Homo sapiens: one gene and its partners. The protein of the gene in region 3 purifies or fractionates together with the protein of the main gene of each other region. This does not show direct contact. Each region holds a gene or a part of one and is shown on either strand. Other genes may lie near its edges.

Region 1 (7,000 bases), on a different chromosome or scaffold from region 3:
TGCCTCATATCTATAATGCCAGCAATTAGAAGGCTGAAGCAGGCAGACTGCTTGAGATTCAGAGTTCAAGACCAGCCTGGGCAACATGGCGAGACCCTGTCTCTATAAAATCTACACAAAATTAGCCAGGCATGGTGGCACACATCTGTAGTCCTAGCTACTTGGAAGGCTGAGGTGGGAGGATCCTCAAAGCCCAGGGAGGTTGAGGCTGCACTGAGCCATGATTGCAACACTGAACTCCAGCCTGGGCGTGGTGGCTCATGCCTGTAATCCCATCACTTTGGGAAGCCAAGGTGGGTGGATCACCTGAGGTCAGGAGTTTGAGACCAGTCTGGCCAACATGGCAAAACCCCATCTCTACTAAAAATATAAAATCATTAGTCAGGCATGGTGGCAAGCACCTGTAATCCCAGCTATTCAGGAGGCTGAGGCAGGAGAATTGCTTGAAACTGGGAGGTGGAGGTTGCAGTGAGCTGAGATCTCACCACTGCACTCCAGCCTGGGCAACAGAGAGAGACTTCGTCTCAAATAAATAAATAAATAAGAGAGACCCTGTCTCTAAATAAATAAATAATAGCGTGACACCTCCCCTACACAACTCTCTCTCTCACTCCTGCTTTTGCCATGTGAATTGCCTGCTCCCGCTTTGCCTTTGGCCACGAGTAAAAGCTCCCTGAGGCCTCACCAGAAGCCAAGCTGATGCCAGTGCCATACTTCCTGTACAGCCTACAGAACTGTGAGCCAGTTAAACTTCTTTTCTTTATAAATTACCCAGTCTGATTTAATTGTATATAGCAGTGCAAGAGACTAATACACCAGGGTATAATTGTGTAACAACCAAGCCCAGGTGATCTGTATCAGATCTGTATTAGATCAGATTTCTTTAGGCTCTCTTGTTGCAGATTTTCTTGTTCAGATATCTTATAAACTAACAAAAATGTCTTGAAGATATCACTAGATTTTAAAGGCTCACATTTGCTGTTTACCACTTCCCCAGATATACCAGGATAAAGAAGACAAAATATGTTAAAATCCTTAATACAGTGAAAGCATCGTATATGCTTTGAAATGACTGTTGCAAGTGAAACAGTTCATTGTAACAGTATCATGCAAGCCAGGGGCAAAGTATATTGGATTCTGGAAACATAGCAGCTTTTCCCACGCCTCATGCCCAATTTGGTTTAGGGATTTACTACGTCTTTTATTTACTTAATTTTTTTACTTGGCCACTAATATCCAGTTAAAGTGTTTCTTTTGCAAACTAAAACTGCTGTTTCTGCTACTGTCTAAAAAAGATAATCTTTCTATTACATGAGATTATGTGAGAGACATCCATAATACTTTTGAAGTATCTCAACTTTAGAAATGGGTGGCTGGAGGCCGAGCACAGTGGCTCATGCCTGTAATCCAGCACTTAGGGAGGCTGAGGTGGGCGGATCACCTGAGGTCAGGAGTTTGAGACCAGCCTGGCCAACATGGTAAAACCCCATCTCTACTAAAAATACAAAAATCAGTCAGGCCTCGTGGCGGGTGCCTGTAATCCCAGCTACTCGGGAGGCTGAGGCAGGAGAATTGCTTGAACCCAGGAGACAGAGGCTGCACTGAGCTGAAATCACCCCACTGCATTCCAGCCAATCACGAGGTCAAGAGATCGAGACTATCCTGGCCAATATGGTGAAACCCCGTCTCTACTAAAAATACAAAAATTAGCTGGGTATGGTGGCGCGTGCCTGTAGTCCCAGCTACTTGGGCGACAGAGCAGGACTCTGTCTCAAAAAACTAAAAAAAAAAAAATAGAAATGGGTGACCAGTATACAGTTTCAGACCACTAAAAACACCTCCATCTACAGCTGTCAGCCATCATGACACTCCATGCAACTACTTACTCATTAATATTTAGTAACTATCTAATGGATGCTGCAAGGCTCTATAAAAACAAAGATAAGGGAAAAAATGAAAGATTACTTGTGGATACGTTTTTCCGAATTTTGAGGCAATTAGACGAAACATCCCAGATGCAGAGTCAGATGGGAACCAGAGTTAGTAATAACTTTTTGGGCCAGGCGCGGTGGCTCATGCGTGGAATCCCAGCACTTTGGGAGGCCAAGGTAGGCAGATCACGAGGTCAGGAGTTTGAGGCCAGCCTGGCCAACATGGTGAAACCTCGTCTCTAGTAAAAATACAAAAATTAGCCAGGCGTGTGGTGCATGCCTGTAATCCCAGCTACTCAGGAGGCTGAGGCAGGAGAATCCCTTGAACCCAGGAAGCACAGGTTGCAGTGAGCCAACATTGTGCCATTGCACTCCAGCCTGGGCAACAAGAGCAAAATTCCGTCTCAAAAAAAAAAAAAAAAAAAAAAAACTTTTAGTGTTCCCATATTTAGAATTTTTCTTTGTTTAAAAAGATGATTTTGAAATAATTAGCTAAGATAATGCCCTGATTCATTCACAACATTTACTATGGATAATGAGGTACCTTGAAAAGAAACCATATAGTAAGATAGTTAAAAGACCAGAAGCAGGCCGGGCACAGTGGCTCACGCCTGTAATCCCAGCACTTTGGGAGGCCGAGACGGGTGGATCATGAGGTCAGGAGACCAAGACCATCCTGGCTAACACGGTGAAACCACGTCCTACTGAAAATACAAAAAATTAGCCGGGCGTGGTGGTAGGTGCCTGTAGTCCCAGCTACTCCAGAGGCTGAGGCAGGAGAATGGCGTGAACCTGGAAGGCGGAGCTTGCAGTGAGCCGAGATTGCGCCACTGCACTCCAGCCTGGGCAACAGAGCGAGACTCCGTCTCCAAAAAAATAAATAAATAAAAAAGACCAGAAGCAAATTAGAATGGGTTGCTTTAACTTGTTTTAAAATTTCTCCTGATAGGCTGGGGGCAGTGGCTCACGCCTGTAATCCCAGCACTTTGGAAGGCCAAAGTGGGCCAATCACGAGGTCAGGAGTTGGAGACCAGCCTGGCCAACATGGTGAAACCCCGTCTCTACTAAAAATACAAAAATTAGCTGGGTGAGGTGGTACGTGCCTGTAGTCCCAGCTACTTGGGAGGCTGAGGCAGGAGAATCGCTTGAACCTGGGAGGCGGAGGTTGCAGTGAGCCGAGATTGTGCCACTGCACTCCAGCCTGGCGACAGAGCAAGATTCCGTCTCAAAAAAAAAAAAAAAAAAAATTCGGGCCAGGCGCAGTGGCTCCCAGCACTTTGGGAGACTGAGGCAGGCGGATCACGAGGTAAGGAGTTTGAGATCAGTCTGGCCAACATGGTGAAGCCCCGTCTTGACTAAAAATACAAAAATTAGCTAGGCATGGTGGTGGGCGCCTGTAATCCCAGCTACTTGGGAGGCTGAAGCAGAATCGCTTGAACTCGGGTGGCAGTGAGCCGAGATTGTGCCACTCCACTCTAGCCTGGGCAACAGAGCAAGACTCCGCCTCAAAAAAAAAAAAAAAAAAAGATTTCTCCTGATTTCCCTCCAAAGGTATAACCTTTCTTTTTTCTTTTCTTTTTTTCTTTTTTTTTTTTGAGATGGAGTCTTGCTCTGTTGCTAGAGTGCAGTGGTCTCAGCTCACTACAACCTCTGCCTCCCGGGCTCAAGCGATTCTCCTGCCTCAGCCTCCAGAGTAACTGGGATTACAGGCGCCCGCCACCACGGCTGGCTAATTTTTGTATTTTTAGTAGAGATGGGGTTTCACCATCTTAGCCAGGCTGATCTCAAACTCCTGACCTCGTGATGTACCCGCCTCTGCCTCCCAAAGTGCTGGGATTACAGGTGTGAGCACTGTGCCCGGCCATCTGTACCTTTTTTAAAGGGGCTCATTTTCTTTCTCTTCTTTTTTTTTTTTTTTTTAAATAGGATCTTGCTCTGTCTCCCAGGCTGGAGTACAGCGGCATGATTTCGGCTCATTACAACCTCTGCCTCCCAGGCTCAAGCAATCCTCCTACCTCAGCCCCCCAAGTAACTGGGACTAGAGGTGTGTACCAGCATACCTGGCTAACTGTTGCACTTTTTTTGACAGACAGTGGGTTTTGCCACGTTGCCCAGCCTAATCTTGAACTCCTAGGCTCCAGTGATCAGCCGGCCTCAGCTTCCGAAAGTGCTGGGATTACAGGCGTGAGCCACCGCACCAGGTCACAGGGCTCATTTTCAATTTACCAACTTGTGGTTTAAAGCTATTAAAGTAGATTACTTTCACATTTCAGCTAGATTATCCAACCGCAAGTTACAAAGTTATCTCAAAAAATATTGCCTCCTCTGGCCGGTTGTGGTGGCTCACAACTGTAATCCCAACACTTTGGGAGGCCGAGGTGGGCAGATCACCTGAGGTTGGGAGTTTGAGACCAGCCTGACCAACATGAAGAAACCCCATCTCTACTAAAAATACAAAATTAGCTGGGCGTGGTGGTGCATGCCTGTAATCCCAGCTACTCGGGAGGCTGAGGCAGGAGAAGCGTTTGAACCTGGGAAGTGGAGGTTGCAGTGAGCTGAGACTGGACCATTGCACTCCAGCCTAAGCAACAAGAATGAAACTATTCCGTCTCAAAAAAAAAAAAAAAATGTAGAAAGGAACTGCAAATGATCTGCCCCTTTAGGAAGGAAATATGAAATACAGGTAAAGCTATGAAGTTTTTGCTTGACATCACACAAGTCACTGCTAGTGAGCTCATACTCTTTTAAGGGATCAAGACTAAATCCATGGGAGGCCGAGGTGGGTGGATCACCTGAGGTCAGGAGTTCAAGACCAGCCTGGCCAACATGGTGAAACCCCGTCTCTACTAAAAATACAAAAATTAGCCTGGCGTGGTGGTGGGCACCGGTAATCCCAGCTACTTGGGAGACTAAGGCAGGAGAATCGCTCAAACCCAGGAGGCGGGGGTTGCAGTGAACCAAGATCCCACCACTACACTCCAGCCTGGGCAACACAGCAAGACTCCATCTGAAAAAAAAAAAAGACTAAATCCACATGTTAATAGTGAAAACATAAAGACACATGCACACATATGTTTACTGTGGCACTATTCACAATAGCAAAGACTTTGAACCAACCCAAATGTCCATCAATGATAGACTGGATTAAGAAAATGTGGCACATATATACCATGGAATACTATGCAGCCATAAAAAAGGGTGAGTTCATATCCTTTGAAGGGACATGGATGAAGCTGGAAACCATCATTCTCAGCAAACTATTGCAAGGACAAAAAACCAAACACCACATGTTCTCACTCATAGGTGGGAAATGAACAATGAGAACACATGGACACAGGAAGGGGAACATCACACATCGGAGCCTGTCATGGGGTGGGGGGAGGGGGGAGGGATAGCATTAGGAGATATACCTAATGTAAATGATGAGTTAATGGGTGCAGCACACCAACATGGCACATGTATACATATGTAACAAACCTGCAAGTTGTGCACATGTACCCTAGAACTTAAAGTAGAATAAATAAATAAATAAATAGTGAAAACATTTTGCCAGGGTTACTAAAATAGCTACAGAGGTTGAAGCTCAAGTCACACATGGAAAGACTTCCCTAGAGCTATTCAACATAAGCTTATGTCCTCTATGCTAAAAAACGAATCTGTTCACAACTATTATAAAGAAACAAATGCAAACAAATTTTAAACAATTATAATGAAAATAGAAAGAACTAAAAAACTATAGGTAACTAAGTATATATATAATTCAATAAATTAATCAAGTACAGCACTGGTTCCCAATACTGATCCAAGACAAAATTTTTAGCAGCTGGCCAGGCACAGTGGCTAATGCCTGTAATCCTGGCACTTTGGGAGGCCAAGGTGGGCGGATCACCTGAGGTCAGGAGTTCGACACCAGCCTGGCCAACATGGCAAAACCCCTTCTCTACTAAAAATACAAAAATTAGCTGGGCATGGTGGAGGGCACCTATAATCCCTACTCGGGAAGCTGAGGCAGGAGAATCACTTGAACCCGGGCGACAGAGGTTGCAGTGAGCCGAGATCAGGCTGCTTCACTCCAGCCTGGGCGAAAGTGAGAAACTCCATCTCAAAAAAAAAAAGAAAAAAAATTTAACAGTCTACAGTGAAATAAAACAGTAAGGAAAAGGTTACTTTTATTTCATAAAGCTAAATCTATATAATCTATAGAAGCGTCCTTAACCCTAAAAATACATACTTCTTAATGTTTTGGTACTATCATGAAATGACCAAGACAACACATCATTGGGGGAAAGGGGTTCTAACAAAGTTACTTTGCAAAATAAGAAGTTGAGTCATAAACCTAGTCTTTCAATGCTGTGTATGTGTGTGTAATCAGAATAATGTGAAACAGAGCTCTATACCCACAGAGAACCCAGTCAAGCTCTGAATGATCAAATAATATTCTAGAGAGTTTCTCATACAGAGAAGCATAAAGACAGTATCTGAGTATGTTTCCAAAAATCAGTATTAATGAATTTTGTCCATAATCATTTTGATGGTCACAAGTTTGAGCATATATTTGAATCCCTAATATATTTAAAGCATTACATGTATTTCAACATTCAAAATTACATAAAGAAACCCAAATGTACTGGGTGGTTTTATAGCTAAAGGCAACTGCTGAAGAATGTTTCATTTCTCAATTTAAAATAGTACGGTACTATCTTTTAATATTCTAAGAGTTCTACCAATGTAAGACTTCCATCCAATTACATTTCTACAACTGAATTGTTCTCTAAGTCATTTCACTTCAACTGAAAATGTCATTTCATTATAGGACATTAAAAATTCTGAATGTCACTTGGCTCTAGGCAATTGGTCTTGATTAAACAAAAATCAAACCTTAACACAAAAATATATCTTACATAAAATTACTTCTAAATGTTTACCAACCAACGGAGAATCTTAAATGTAGGCCCGGCTGTGGCCAAGCGCAGTGGCTCGTGCCTGTAATCCTAGCACTTTGGGAGGCCAAGGTGGGCAGATCACCTGAGGTCAGGAGTTCAAGACCAGCCTGGCCAACATGGTGAAAC
Region 2 (7,828 bases), on a different chromosome or scaffold from region 3:
GGTGGAGGAATGAGGTAGTTTTTGTATTCCTAGAAGCTGCCACTGGTTAGAGGTATCCAGCAGCTTATTCCTAATGTAAATGATACCAAGCTAAACTCTGATCGCTGAGATCTTGTGTTTTAGCTTAACCATCCCTTAGCAAGATTGGTTAGTTGTGATAGCAAAAGAGTGCTGAGGATGTGAATTAGGTCCACAGATGAGTCAAGTATCTTCCCCCTGAAATGGGACCACAAACCACACTCTGGCAGGCCACCATCTCACAAAGGCACTAACTTTGATCTAGGAAGGGCCAGTTGAAAGTGTGAATGCATCACCAGGAAAACATCTTCATCACTAAAAAAACAGCTCCATTCCTTCCTCAATATGATGTAGGAATAAAAAAGCACTAACAGGGTCAAGCATGACTTGCTAAACCTTACCTGTCCGGGAGGGGCGCTCTCTGCACCCAACACCTGCCTATAGAACACCGGATCACAGCTCCGCAGCGTGTTCTGGCGGCTGGCCAGTGGACTGGCTGCACCAGGTTTCTTCAGCAGCGGGTCGCTGCGGCGGGAGTCCGTGGTGAGATACACCTGATGGTAAAGGTGCGGCGACATCAGGCCTCCCCGCACGGCGTCCGCGTGCAAGGAGGGCCCTGGTGTTCGGTACAGTGAGCTCACCGGGGCTCGGTATAGGTCTCTAGACTGCTTCCACTTGTAAACTTTGAATATGATTACTCCGAACACTGTGACCACAAACCCCACAGAAACCAGGATTAGAGAAAGAAGTAGATAAAAGGTGAGATTTTTTTTCTGCTCCCGGGGGGCAGAGCCAGAGGGGAACTCGGCTCGGGCTTCAGGAGAGTCCTCGGTTACTGACACAGTGAGGGTAGCAGTGGTGGAGAGCGAAGGCTCCCCATTGTCTTTGATCAAGACCGTGAGAGTCTGCCTGGGTGAATCTGTGTCTTGGACTGGACGGGCAGTACTGATTTGACCAGTGTGCAGCCCTATGGCAAAAAGGCTCTGGTTAGGGGATCCCAAGAGACTGTAGGAGAGCCAGGCATTGTGCCCTGCATCCGCGTCCCAGCCTACCACCCGTGACACTAGGTGGCCAGCTGAGGTACCTCGAGGCAGCATCTCCACCGAGCTCCCACCTGGCCGAGGATATAGGACCTGGGGGGCATTGTCATTGCGATCAGTGACAAATATGTTCACGCTGATGTTGGTGGCTAGGACCGGGGTGCCCCCATCGCTGATATGAGCTGTTAATTCAAATTCCCGCCGATCCTCATAGTCTAGGGGCACTAAGGATGACACTATGCCATTGTCACGATTTATTGTGAAATAGCGACCCACTAGCCCGGTTTCAGCTCCTTGCTCCAAGAGAAAGAAAGAAAGCCGAGCATTCTGCGGGGCGTCGGGGTCCCAGACACTTAGGTTTAGTATTGGAGCCCCGGGGAGGTTGTTTTCTTCAATGTAAACGTCGTAGGAAGATTGAGAAGATTGTGGAGGGTTGTCATTGATGTCGGACACTTGAACACGCACTATTGTAAGGGCTGAGAGGGAAGGGGTTCCGGCGTCTCGGGCGGTGATGCTGAGGTTGTATTCTGGCACAGTCTCCCGATCCAGGTCTGCACTGGTTTTCAAAGTGAAGTAATTCTTGAGGGAAGAAGTAAGGCTGAAAGGGAGACCCGGTGGAACTTCGCAGGTCACCAGCCCGTTCTCGCCAGCATCCAGGTCAGTCACACTGAGCAAAGCGATGACAGTCCCCAGAGGGGCATCCTCGGGTACTGGGCTGTACACGGAGGTGACTGTGATCTCCGGGGCGTTGTCATTCACATCCACAACCTCCACCAACACTTTGCAATGTGCTCCTTCGGGATTGGCGCCCTTGTCTTTGGCCTGGATGTAAATCTCATGGAGTTTGGTGTCCTCGAAGTCCAGCCGACCCTTGATTGTCAGCATCCCGGTTACAAGGTCTAAGGCGAATAGTTGCCGCACGCCGGCGCGGTTGTGGCTGCCGAAGGAGTAAATAATTTCACCGTTGGGGCCTTCATCCAGATCCGTTGCAAGGACTTGTACCACGCGCGTGCCGGAGGGTGCATCCTCCAGGACGCGCGCCCGGTACAAGGACTGGTTGAAGACAGGCGCATTGTCATTCGCGTCCAGCACCTTGATGTGAATAGGCAGGCTGGCGGAGAGAGCTGGGGTCCCTCCGTCCAACGCCGTCAGCACTAACTGGAGACTAGGCTCCCGTTCTCGGTCCAGGGCGCGCTCCAACACCAGCTCCGCGTACTTGGTGCTGTCCTCCCGCGTCTGCACGCGAAGCGCAAAGTATTCATTTCGGCTCAGCTCATAGGTTTGTAAAGAGTTGCTTCCCACATCGGGATCGTGCGCGCTCTCGAGCGGAAAGCGCGTCCCCGGAGCCACGGCCTCGCTAATCTCCAATTTCATTTCCTGGGTAGGGAAAGCAGGATTGTTGTCGTTGATGTCCTGGATCACCACTTCCACGCTGAACAGCTCCAGCGGGTTCTCCACTACCAACTCCAGAGTTACAGTGCAAGAGGGCAGTGTCCCACACAGCTCCTCTCGATCCAGACGGTCGTTCACAAACATCTCTCCGGTCTCCCGGTTCACCTCAAAGAATCTTCGGCTAGCTCCAGACACCACCCGGAACCTGCGGGCTGAGAGGCTACCGAGATCCAAACCAAGGTTCGCGACCACGTTGCCCACAGCGAAACCCTTCTCTCTTTCCTCCGGGATCTCATAGTGAATGACCGTGGAAGCCTTGTTCAAGGCACCAAGCAGAAGCAAAACTCCCACTACCCTCCCGGTGCTTACCAGTCCGCTCCTCCAGGCCTCTGGGACCATCTCACTCAAAAGCAGTTCCTCTCAGCGGGGTCCAGATCGTCCCTGAGATTTCGCTGAGAAACTTTCAGCGGGTTAGCGCTTGGGCGCTGGGCGCCGAGTCCGACATGGCTTTCTGGATGCCGTTGATTTGCTCGCCGGCTGTTCAGTCTCTGCCTCATCCCGGGGCGCAGAAAGGGGACGGGCAGGGGCCCGATCTCCAGCGTCTTCATTGGCCGACAGCGGCACACAGAGTCCCAGCCAATAACTGCACGAAGAATGAGCTAGCGCCGGGCTCTCTGAGCAGGACACGCGCTAGCGCCAGGAACTTCACTTTCCTTTGGCTTCCTTCCAGAGTTTCCAGCCAAAGCGCCTTGCCAGTATCGGTGCATAGGAAACCTACCTTAGGGAAAGCCAGCCTTGGGGCTGTGAGGCTAGCCGTTCTGCAAGTCTCCAATCCAAATCAAGACTCATTAAACATTTGAATCACTTTCTTTGATCACAAGAAAGGGGATCGAACCAAACCGAAAACTACACAACATTGTCTGGAAAAACACCAACAAATCTGGCTTGTTGGAAGACAGACAATTAGCCGGACCCTACTTGTAAGGAGGCATTTAGCATTTCCGTGGAGACATTAATAATTTCAGTTTTATCTCTTACCAAATGAAATTAGCATTCCCTGTCACTTCCTCATTATCTGGAGCTACTATCAAATTAGCAGGAGTTACAATCTATTGGTTTAACTCTGGCTTATAAAATTTAAAAGTACAATTCAGATTTTATTTCTTTTAAAACTGGATGTCATTGTTAGCTCTCATTTCTTAAGAACCAGGGAGCAATAAGAAATTTCCCTACCCTGTCTTTCACAAGGAGCATGATCTCAGTTGTAGAGCACACTCTCTCTATCGTTTCCCTTTACTTGATCAATCCTTTTCCCAAGATCTTGGGTACCATATGCCACAAGAAGTTGCACTGCTAATGAAGAAGAAGACGGAGAAGATTTCAAAAAGAAAAAAAGCCAGGCCTATTTACCACCTAGGATCTTTATAAAATTATTGAAATAATGGCAGCAAAGCTCCACAAATCTTTAGAAAATACAAAGCCTTTAGTCACAGAATAAAGAGCCTTAACTTTTCTGCATTTAGAATTGTTGTCACCAAACAAAATTATAATGATTAGGATAGTGAATAAAAGAGTCCACTGTGATATAAGCCAGAGATGAGATGTATATCCTTGAACAAGAAATGAACCTCTAAGAGTTCCTGCTCCTATCCTATTAAATGAAGAAGGCAGGTAAAGTGCCTGGCACAGAGTAAGCCTCAATTAATGATGCAAACCACTCCATTAGATGTAAAGTGTTAGAGCCTCATACTATTTCTGTATATTTGTCTTGGACATCACTTTGATTGCATAGAGTCCTTTTGAAGTATAATAGAACCTTGAACATAAGTGAAGGGGTAGGCACATAGGTTAGGTAGGTAGAAAAGAAGTAAGGATATATAGGATATTTCCGGAAGAGATGAAAAGCCATATGTGACCTATATTTCCATGTCTTTAACACTTCAATTAATCTCTGAAAACCCCCAGTTTTAAATGCTCAAGTTTGATAATTAGCCAGACCAGCAAGAGGGCTGATAGGCATTAGAAGATAGAATACATTTAGAATTTAGAATAAAGAGTATAGCCCAATCACTTGCTACTCAAAGTGTGAGGACCAATGGTCTAGGCATCACCGGGGAGCTTGTTAGAAATGCAGAAATGCCCTCCTCTAGACCTACTGAGACATGACTTACATTTTAACAAAACATCAGGGTGATTTGAAAACACATTAAAGTTTGACAAGCACTGATCTAGTGGGTTATTCAGAGATACACTGGTTTATCAGTCTTTTTTTCCCCTATTCAGCATCACTTAATTCACAATCTGGTTTTTGAAAATCAGCTTTTAAAAATGTAAGTAGTTTTCTCAATAATAAGGCCTGTCATTTTCTTGATAATAAGGCCTGTAGTTTTCTGAGATTTTCGTTGTTGTTGTTTTTGTTGTTGTTTGTTTTTTGGTTTTTGTTTCTGAGGCAGGATCTCGCTCTGTCATCCAGGCTGGAGTACAGTGGAATAATCATAGCTCACTGTAACTTCCAGCTCCTTGGGCTCAAGGGATCCTCCCGCCTCAGACTTCTAAGTAGATGGGACTACAGGCCTGAGCTACTGCACCCAGCTCATAGTTTTCTTAAGACCTCTTCATGAACCAACAGAACCCTTGTGTATGCATTCTCCACAATAGCGAGGTTCATCTTCCTAAAATTTTAATTGGATCACACAATTGTCCAGCTGCTCCTCAGTAGCATCATACTGCTCTTGAATTAAAATACCAAATCCTTTGCATAGTATCCAAGTTCTCATGTCTTCTCCCTCTCTCACTATATTCCATTGCACCACTTGGAGGGTGGTCAGAACCCCAGCCCTTCCCTGTCTCAGGGCCTTCACACAAATTGTTCCTTTGCCAGGAAAGCTGCTTTTTCCTCCCTCCCTTTGCTTTGCTAATTTCTACAGGTCTGTCTGGTCTTAGTTTAAATGTTATTTCCTAATAGAGGTCTTCCATTAGGCCCCAGTTAAAACCAGGATCCTTTGTTATGCTCTCTCAGAACACCTTATATTTTTTCCATTGAACTTGGCACAACTTTAAATTTTATAATTATTTTTGCATAAGCAAAGTATCTGCTTCCCCCACTGAAGAAGAAAAAAAGAAGCTCCAGGAGGGCAGGGACCATGCTATTTTGGTGGCCACTTGCATCCTCACTGTCTAGCACAGCAGGCACTTAATGCTTATTAATATAGCAATCTTTATGCTACTGACATAGTAAAATAATCATAGCATACACTAAGGACTATATATGTATTCACTTGTGTGGATCCAATCTCCCTGGAAGTAAGCATTTTTTAGAAGATACATTTACTCCTTCAAGTTACCAGTGGGCCTTCCTAGCCCTAGTGATCTGAAGAGATAATATAGTTTGCCAAAGAGCCAAGTAAAGTGTGGTAATACAACTCACAGTGGATAATAAACAAAGATGCTGTAACTTGTTGTATCACTTCTTTCTTTCTTTCCTTCCTTCCTTCCTTCTTTCTTTTTCTTTTTCTTTCTTTTTTTTTTTTTTTTTGAGTTTCACTCTTGTTCCCCAGGCTGGAGTGCAATGGCATAATCTTGGCTCACCACAACCTCCTCCTCTTGGGTTCAAGCAATTCTCCTGCCTCAGCCTCCCGAGTAGCTGGGAATACAGGCATGTGCCACCATGCCCAGCTAATTTTCTATTTTTAGTAGAGACGGGGGTTTCTCCATGTTGGTCAGGCTGATCTTGAACTCCCAACCTCAGGTGATCTGCCAGCCTCCGCCTCCCAAAGTGCTGGGATTACAGGTGTGAGCCACAGCGCCTGGCCTGTATCACTTATTTCTAGGGGAAATGGAAGGACCAGTATACAGGATTTATATACTGATTCAACACAATTTCCCAGTCTTTATCTTTTTTCTTCTTTGTTTTATAATTTCAAGAGAGCTTCTGACCAATGAGATGCAGCATTTATAATATAATTTTTTTTTTCTTGAGATGGTGTCTCACTCTGTCACCCAGGCTGGAGTGCAGTGGCACGATCTCGTCTCACTGCAAGCTCTGCCTTCTGGGTTCAAGCGATTCTCCTGCCTCAGCCTCCCTAGTAGCTGGGATACAGGTGCGTGCCACCACGCCTGGCTAATTTTTTCTATTTTTAGTGGAGACGGGGTTTCACCGTGTTAGCCAGGATGGTCTCGATCTCCCAACCTCGTGATCTGCCTGCCTCGGCTTCCCAAAGTGCTGGGATTACAGGTGTGAGCCACTGTGCCCGGCTATAATATAACTTTAAAATAGAAAGTGAATGTATTATATGATCGAGAGTAAGGTCTTAGTGTCAAAAAGATTCAAATTCCAATACTGGATATTACACCTAGTAGCTATGTAACCATGAAACTTTTATTTTTAACTTCTCTTTTATTTTCTTTATGTATAAAATGGGAATAATAATAGTACTCATTGATATAACCACAGACATGTCAATCATTTTTAAAATCTTTTCACAGCTTTCTACATACAATATAGTGCCCCTATACGATGCAGGGATTTTTAATAAATTTATACAGTAATGCAACCAACCCCACAATCCAGTTTTAGAAAACTCTCATCACCCCCAAAATTTCCCTCATGCTTGTCTGTAGTCAATCTTCCTAGCTTCAGCCTCAGGCAACCACAGTTTTGCTTTTTCTGAATATTTTATTAAAAAGGAATTATAAAATAGGTAGTCTTTTATATGTCTTTTATATGACATAGCATAATGTCAAACTCATCTTTTGACCACACCCTCAAATATGTTATGTCTCCAACCTTCCTTACCTGGTAAGTGGCACTTCTATTCCAGCCAGAATTTCAGAAGTAATTTTTAATATTTTTTTCTGCATCCCCACATCCAGTATATTACTAATCCATACCAATGCTTACTACTCCCAAAATATATTTTGAAACTATCAATTACTTACCCTATCTACTGCTACCCCTGAGTCAAAGCAACCTTAAATGCTATCATAGCTTCCTCGCTGTTATTTTTACTCCCTCTCTTGCATTCCCTAAATTCCATTTCACATGCAGAGACCTGAGTAATCTTTCAAAAGGTACATGAGATTATACACTTTCCTTGCTAAAAACATAACTAAGCCTAGCTACGTAACTTGTAGGGTCAGTGCAAAATAAAAATAGGGGGCTTGGAGGCCGGGCGCAGTGGATCATACCTGTAATCCCAGCACTTTGGGAGGCCGAGTTGGGTGGATCACTTGAGGTCAGGAGTTTGAGACCAGCCTTGCCAACATGGTGAAACCCCATCTCTACTAAAAATACAAAAAAATTGCCAGGCATGGGGGTGGGTGCCTGTAATTCCAGCTACTAGGGAGGCTGAGCCAGGAGAATCACTTGAACCCAGGAG
Region 3 (7,946 bases):
ACTGTTACATGCATCAACATGGATGAATCTTGTTAAGTCCAATGGCAATTCCTAGAAAATGATATATAGTATAGTACCTTTTAATAAAGTTCAAAAAGCAAGTAAAGCTAAATAAATTCATGTTACATGTATTTTTAAATCCAAGGAAATGATAAACCATAAAAATCAGGATAGTGGCCAGGCGCAGTGGCTCACGCCTGTAATCCCAGCACTTTGGGAGGCTGAGATGGGTGGATCACGAGGTCAGGAGTTCAAGACCAGCCTGGCCAAAATGGTGAAACTCCATCTCTACTAAAAACACAAAAAATTAGCCAGGCATGGTGGCAGGAGCCTGTAATTCCAGCTACTCGGGAGACTGAGGCAGAGAATTGCTTGAACCTGGGAGGTGGAGGTTGCAGTGAGCTGAGATGGTGCCACTGCACTCCAGCCTGGGTGACAGAGCAAGACTCCATCTAAAAAAAAAATCAGGATAGTGTTTTTGTGTGAAGGAGAGGCAAAAAGATGGGCTAGGAAAGGAGCACCCGGGAAGATGTAGGTGTTGGAAATGTTCTAGGTCTTGGGTTCAATAGTGGGTTCATGTGTGTTCATCATGTTATGAATAAATACATGAATTAATAAGTCCCATACTTGGGCTAATGTTGACAATGTGTCATGATCAAGGATTATGATTAATTCAATTCTGATCATTCAATACCTAAATGGAAGACAGAAATAGAGAGGGAGAGAGAGAAGCCAATGGAGCTGGCCTTTCTTCCTTTTTTCCTCCCTCCCTTCCTCCCTGCCTGCCTGTCTTTCTTTTCTTTTCCTTTACCTTTAATTATTCCACAAACATCTACTGTTTGTCGACTGTATACCATGCCCCAGGCTGAGAACTAGGAACACTGGGATGAATCAGACACAGTCCTGCCCTACAGAGTCACCATGTGATGCAAGAGTCTGACAATTCCCCAAATGTTTTCAAGGTGCTATGACAGATGTAAAGCAACAAGGTGTGGTAGGGCTTACAGAAGGGGCCCTTAATCCAGCCTGGGCTATTTGGGAAGACTGTGGAGCTTTCTGCTTTGAGAAATTAGCAAGAAGAAAATGTGGTTGGGGGTGTAACAGCTATAAAAATGAAAAAGACAGCCTTGCCCTTGAAGTGCTCATATCTTGGGGTGAGGGACAAGAAAGGAGGTCACAACAGTGGGACTTGGGGTTGTGAGAGAGGCAAGCACAGGCTTGAGATGCACATAGGAGGGCACCGTGCTGTGCCTGCAGTGTTGGGAAGGCTTCCTGGAGGAGATGACATGTATACAAGCAGAGAGACGAAGTATGAATTAGAGTTACCTGGAAAGTCTGTACCAGGAAGAAAGGTAAGCACCTACAATGGCCTGTGGCAGGGAGAAAGAGCATGGAGGAGCTCAGGGGGCCCCAGTGTGGCCTGGCCCAGAGCGCAAATGAGAGGAGGTGAAACTAGATGAGTAGGCAGGGAGCCAGATTCCATGAAAAAGCATGAAAATTATGCTGTGGACCATGGGGTACCTCTGAAGGGAGTGGCAAGGGTGATTTTTCCTTCATGAAGAGAGCCCAGCAGTAGAGGTGAGGGGGCCGCTATAACTGCTAGGGAAAGAGATGGTGATGCTTGGGCTGTAAAGAGGAACAGAATTTGAGAGCTGAGCACCTGATGGACAATGCTGCATGGCAGGCTGGGCTCAAACAGGGTTGCTCCTGAGGGGTGGGCAGAGGACATTCAAACCTCACACAACACAGTTCTGTCTTGCCACAGACCTCCTTGGAGCAAGCTGCAAGCTCCAAAATTTCTCAGAACTGAAAGTTTTTCCTCCAACTTCTGTAAAACCATGGTTAATACTTTTACAAGACAGAGAAGGAGTCCGAGATTTCAATAGCTAAAAACTGGGAAGTAGACCGAATACCATTCCTTGTGGGAGCAAAGGCAGGAGGAGTGAGGTTCAGAGCTTTGCTTTATCCAAGGGGTTCTGGACCCCTGACTGCAGCAGCTCCCTACTGGACCTTCTGCCCCAGGCATTACTTTGCCTTAGTCCAAGAATCCCACGAATGCTACAGATCTTGGTCTACTCCTGAGAAGTAGAAGGAAAAAGATTTATTGTGCACCGACTACACGACAAGCTACAACCCACAACTGTACTCTAGGGACATTCTTCTGTTCCTGTTTAGAAATGAGAAAGCTAGGACCCAAAGGCTTGGAATTGAGATTTAAGCCCAGAGCTGTCTGACTATGCCCATGCAATACTGTACATTCTTTAGAGCAATACTGTGGCTAGTTTTTCACGGTTGCATTTTTAGACTCACTCTTGGACAGTTAAGAACATCTTGCATTAGTTACCTACTGCTGAATAACAAATTACTCCAACATTTAGCTGATTAAAACAACAAACATTTATTATCTTACAGTTTCCATGCATCAGAAATCTAAGCACAGGTAGTTGGTTTCGGTGATTCACGATCTCTCATGAGGTTGCAGTCAAGGCATCACACAGGGCTGTATTGTCCTATGAAGGGCTCAGCTCGGCGGGGCAGAGATCTGCTCCCAAGTTCACTCATGTGGTTATCGGTAGGTCTCAGTCACTCACCATATGGGCCTCTCTCCACAGTGCCACTGCAGGATATAGCAGCTGGCTTCTCCAGAGAGGTGATCCCAAAAGAGAGCAAGAGTGTATGCTCAAAACAGAAGCCACAGTCTTCTTATAACCTAATATTGGAAGGAACATCCCATTACCTCTGCTGTATTCTGTTAGTGAGAAGCAAGTCAGTAAGTCTAGCCCACACTTTAAGGGAAAGGGTTTACACAAGGGAGTATATACCAGGAGTCAGGGATCACTGGGGGCCATTTAGAAGCTGCTGATCTCAATCTAAAGAATTTTAGTAGCCAGGCTATCCTGGCTTCTCCCCAAATGGCAAGTTGTTTCCCTTGTTATCCAGAGGCTGGAGGATTTGGGGGTCTACAGGGACACAAGGGGGCCCTGTTTTGGCCCACTCCTTTGTGCCTGGGGCATAATCTCATTGGGAAAGGCCAGTGTGGTGAACCTAACTGGAGCCCCCAAGGGAGGGGGGGAGTTGTTTTCTCAAATTGTGGCCACTGCTCCCTCCCTCCCTTATCCTTGAAGCTACTGTGATGCTTCCCAGCACCGAGTGGAAGCAACGGGCATCCTCCACACACACACCCAGCCTGTCAGCCAGATGGGTAGAGAAACCATCAGCATGAACGTCTGCTTTAAACTTTCCTTTGCTTCTGAGCTTCTTTCCACAAATTTTCTTTTCTTGCTCCCCAACCACATCCATAACCCCCACAGTAGCTCACAGTAGAGGTGCTCCAGGAGCTTGTCAATAGGAGGTAGGAAGGAAAGACACCAAGTGTGAATGTAGGTCAGCACTGCCACTTAGGGCAGTTCAAATCACATTCACTGTCCTCAGCATCTATCCTATGCTGGTGCAGGGCATCCAGAGATGTGTGAGGTACCTATACTTGCCCTCCAGGGGGGGCTCACAGTTTTAGGAGGGGCAGACATGCAAACAGACAGTGATGAAACGTTAGAATAAGTACAATAAATACGTGTCAATACACACTTTTGTCACCTCATCATGGTTATCTTGGTTCATAAAGCATCATCTTATGCTTAGACTATTACAGTAGCTGCCAACCTGGTTTCCTCCATCCATCCATCCAGTTGGCTGCTAAGAGGTCTTTCTGGAATGCAAATCCGACAAGGTCACTACCCTGGTTAAAGGCCTCCCAAAGTGATGGGGAAGGTCAAGCTCTTGATACAGTCTCCACCCAAGACCCTAGACACCGTCCATCCCTCCAGTTCCGTCATACCCCCTCTGCTCATAGCACAGGCTCTGTGCTGTGATAGGTAGCTCTCCAGGTGACCATGTTGTACCCCTGCCTCCAGGAGCTAATTCATGTAGACACATTTACTAGGAAACATTCCCAGTTGCCCTTTCCAGTCTGACAAATTCGCCCCAGAACCTCTCTCAAAACGTTTCCTTCATAGAGTTGGATTGTCTTTACTTGTTTTCCATGTCCTTGATGAAATGCGCACTCTGCATCTAGACTCTGTCTGCATCTAGACTCTGTCTGCATCTAGACTCTGCCTGGTACCTGGCACAGAGAGGGATTGGGTTAGCAAATGACTGCGTAATGGACCTAAAGTCAATTCTGGGAGCACAGACGAGGGCCACCAAACCAAGAACTTTCAATTTCCCCAAGGAAGCGCAGATACCAGAAGCACCCTCGAGGCTTCTGTTTTGGCCACGCCCTTTACCCCATCGCTCAGTTCAGGCTCCCAATGAGGCGGCCCACCATCAGCGCTGGTAGAGCAAAGAGACCGACTTCCTGCGCCTCGGGTGGGCGGGGAACGCTCCTTGAGCAGGTGCGGTATGAAATTGGACTTTAAGAGATGAGTTGGAGCCTGATCTCAAAAATAAAGTGTGGACGTGTGTGTCTGAGGAAGGGGGATAATAAACCACCCTTTTTTCCTCCTGGCTGCTATTTCCCACGTGCGTTGAGTAAAGGCACCAAAGCTGCCTAGTGACTGGGTGTCTCCTCCCCGTCAGGGGCACCCACCCTGGCGCTCCAGGAGCGCTTGAATGAATCCGGGAGGACCCGCGCGCAGGAATGAATGCGAGAGCTAGGGAGTGAGCGGGCGAGTGGGCGGGTGAGTGAATGGCGACCGCGCCGCCGCCTTGGCACAGGGGCGCGGGCGCGGGCTCCACTTCCCTCTCCCGCCAGCTGGTGGCCTCGAGAAGGTGGCGGCGCCGGCAGCGGCCCGAGCTGGGACGGCCGGGGCGCGGGATGGTGGGGGAAGGGGCGTTCCCGGCGACCGCGCCTTCCGCGGCTATTGGATTAGTGGCCTTCAGGGATGAGCTCAGCCAGATCGGCTTTCAGCTGCAGCCTCCGGGCCGGCCGGGAAGGCGGGGAGCGGGCGGCGGCGGCGGAGGAGGGGGAGGCGGCGGCGGCTGCAGCATCCAGAGCTGGCCGTGGCGGCCGGCGCGCCCCGCGCACAAAAGCACCCAGCCCCAGGGGAGGGCGATGAACACACCACATCCCGGGCCCGGGCCCCAGCTGCTGCTACCGCTGCGTGCGCTCAGGGCGCTGGGGAAGACGCCCGGCGCGCCGGGGGCCAGCGGCCGAGGCGCGGCCCGTGCGCCCTGAGCGCGGGACTCGTCGCCCTCCGGGTCAGGCGCCAAGCTTCCAAGCGGCTAGAGCGCGGGCCTTGGAGCGCCCCCAGGATCGCTTCAGTAAGGCGCTTCCCCACTCCAGGCCCGACCCCCGGCGCCTGAGCGCCAACTTCGCCAAGAACGCTCCTAACTCCAGGCCATCCTGCAGCGCAGAGGGGGCGCTGCTGCCGGGCATCAGCCGTGAGGACGCGCCCCTGGCCGTGCGGAGAGAGCCGGCATTTGCGGGTCACTCGGGCGCCCCTGAGTGGGCGGCGGCGGCAGCAGACCCCTCTCCAGGGAGTCCAGGACCTGCCAGCGCTGGGGATTCTTCCCGAACAGGCGCTTGCCCTCTCTTTTATGGTAAGTACTCTCCAGCTCCTGGTGAGGGGCGCGCGGGGGCCGGGAGCCGAGATCCGGCTGCACGGACTTTGTGCGGGCCAGCACTCGACACAGCTGGCGCTCCTGACGTCCCAGTCCCTGAGAATTCCTCTCTGCAGGTTGTGGCAGTTCGAGATGGTTGATTTGCGCGCAGCCCTGGGGCGTTTGGGGCCCGGCCTTTGGTATCATGGGTTCTAAGCCCTTTGCTTCTCTGCGTAGCGGACAACGCACAAAAAACTGCCATCCGATTCACCCGCTTTGGTTTGGATCCAGGATCCGTCACTCACTGGCTGAGTGACCTTGGACAGGGCGCCAAACCTGTTTCCTCATCCGTAGGATGGGAATGATAATTGTGCACATTTTATAGGGGTATTGGAAAGATCTATGGGATGGTGTTCGTAGGTAGACATGTGCTGGGCACACAGGAAACACTCAATCATATGTTAGCTAGTATTATTATTAGCTTTGCGAGCCCAAGCTTGTTATCCAACTTTCCGAAGCTGCAGCAGTTCCGTCGTCCGTGTAATGGGGACAATAATTCCTGGGGGTCTGTTCGTCCGGGGTATTCGGAGAGGTGGAAGTAAAGCACGGGTCACGCAATAGGCACCGGTGGCTGTTGTTACCGTTTATTCCTGACTCTGGGGCAGTGAGGCTGGTCGCCTGGCCCGAGAGCGACTCAGGGACCAGTCCTGGCCTTGCTTGAATACAAACTTGTCTATGCTCGGGAAGGGAGGGGGTTGGGAGCTCAGGAAACCCTAGGCGCAGGGCTCTGGGAAGGAGGGAGGGGGTCAGAGACTTGAGCGCGGCAAATGTGTCCGCCCTGGTCGCTCTGTACGCGCCAGGGGCTCCAAGCCAGAAGGGGACGCCGAGCCCCCGACCTCTGACTGGCGGGAGAACCGGGGGAGTGGCTGCTCCCGCCGGCCCATGGCCAAGCGCAGACGGCTGCCGGCAGGAAGGAGAGGAGGGCACTTTTCTGTACCGCTGTCGCGAGAAGGTGGAGAGTTCTCAGTTCTGGAGTCAGGCTTGGGTTCGAATCTGTCTCCACCACCAGCTCGCGGTGTGACCTTGGGCAAGTTCTCTAACCTCCCCCCGCTTGGTTTCCTCTTCTGCGCCCCACTCTCCTCCTTGGGGGGTTGGGGGATGAAGATAGGAGTTCCTTTCTCTCAGACTCTGAGCCCTCTATCCTCCCACCCCCTTTCTGGCCCCCTGCCCCCCACCCGCGCAATTTGATGAGCTTAAGTCTGGAAGACGTAAAATGTGTAAAAGCATGATATAAACATCCTTTACCCAAGGGCATATTCCTCTGAGACACATACCCTCTAATTTATTCCATTTTTAAAAATGGTAATGAAAAGAATTTAAGCCACCTTTGGCAAATCACAAACAAAATTCAACTTACTGGACCTTCTACCCAAATATCTCTCCAGTTTGTATTTCTCGTTTATTTTAAAGATATATTTAATGATATAAAAATAAAATCTGCAAGGAAAAGAAATCACCAGAAACAGTCAAAAGATATATGACAAACTGTCACATATGACATATACCACTCCTATCACAACAGGCTCATCTCTTTAAATATGTAAGAGATTCCTGAGGTCAACAAACAAAAGATCAAATGGGCAAAGACACGATTCATACATGCGAAATAAAATAGAAATGATACCAAAACATATGACAAGATACCTTACCTCAATACGAAAAATGCAAGTTAAAATTACAAGATTTTTTTTTAATGTATCAAATTAGCAAGTAGTCATAACCATTTATCAGAAGCATCTTTTAAAAATGTAGATCACATTTCTCCCTAGCTCAGGACCTCCTTAAGGCTGCCACAGAGTAAAATCTAGATGATCCCAGGGGTCCTCAGGTCTGGTACTGCCCTTCTCCACCTCTTCCTCACCATTTTCCTCTCCCCCACTACCCACCCTCCTAGCCTTCTTCCTTTTACTCCAACACTCCAAAGGCTCATTCACTTGCTGTTCCCCTGCCTAGAATACTTTTCCTCCTAGTTTTTCATACAACTGAAACTTCCTCATCATTTACGTAGAACTGTCCTTGGAAGGGCTTCATTTCTATCCCAGAAAGTGGCCAAGCCACAGTGGCCAGTGCAGAATTCCTTGCCCTTTTGGGGAAAGACCTAGTACAACTCACCATACAGGAGTTACTTAATTTCCCCTGAGCTGCCCGACCTGTTGTCACACATCCATGCTCTAGAAAGGTTTTTTCTCTGTTGATACAGGAGTGAAGGGTCTTGGGCATGAAAATCAGGGGAGTGGCAGGCCGTAGATGGAGGTCACCAGAAGTCTCTGCCTATATATGTACTATATAAGTACATAGTATGTACTCTTGATTTATGTGAACATGACCATCTGTGGTAAGAAAAGATC

What was found. The genes of interacting proteins can lie anywhere in the genome.
Region 1: the proteins of SPSB4 (region 3) and LRIG2 purify together in Homo sapiens (co-immunoprecipitation; 2 studies listed by BioGRID and IntAct, with this or other methods). This does not show direct contact.
Region 2: the proteins of SPSB4 (region 3) and PCDHGC3 purify together in Homo sapiens (co-immunoprecipitation; 2 studies listed by BioGRID and IntAct, with this or other methods). This does not show direct contact.

What each region holds. Positions count from the first base shown.
Region 1 is NC_000001.11:113,076,198-113,083,197, reverse strand, and holds part of LRIG2 (leucine-rich repeats and immunoglobulin-like domains protein 2 isoform 1 precursor), read right to left. Parts: intron 1-7,000.
Region 2 is NC_000005.10:141,471,138-141,478,965, reverse strand, and holds the start of PCDHGC3 (protocadherin gamma-C3 isoform 1 precursor), read right to left. Parts: upstream 3,001-7,828; 5' UTR 2,850-3,000; coding exon 420-2,849; coding exon of another isoform or gene 258-419; exon of another isoform or gene 171-257; intron 1-170. UniProt on the Homo sapiens protein: Potential calcium-dependent cell-adhesion protein. May be involved in the establishment and maintenance of specific neuronal connections in the brain.
Region 3 is NC_000003.12:141,046,455-141,054,400, forward strand, and holds the start of SPSB4 (SPRY domain-containing SOCS box protein 4), read left to right. Parts: upstream 1-4,892; 5' UTR 4,893-5,538; intron 5,539-7,946. UniProt on the Homo sapiens protein: Substrate recognition component of a SCF-like ECS (Elongin BC-CUL2/5-SOCS-box protein) E3 ubiquitin-protein ligase complex which mediates the ubiquitination and subsequent proteasomal degradation of target proteins.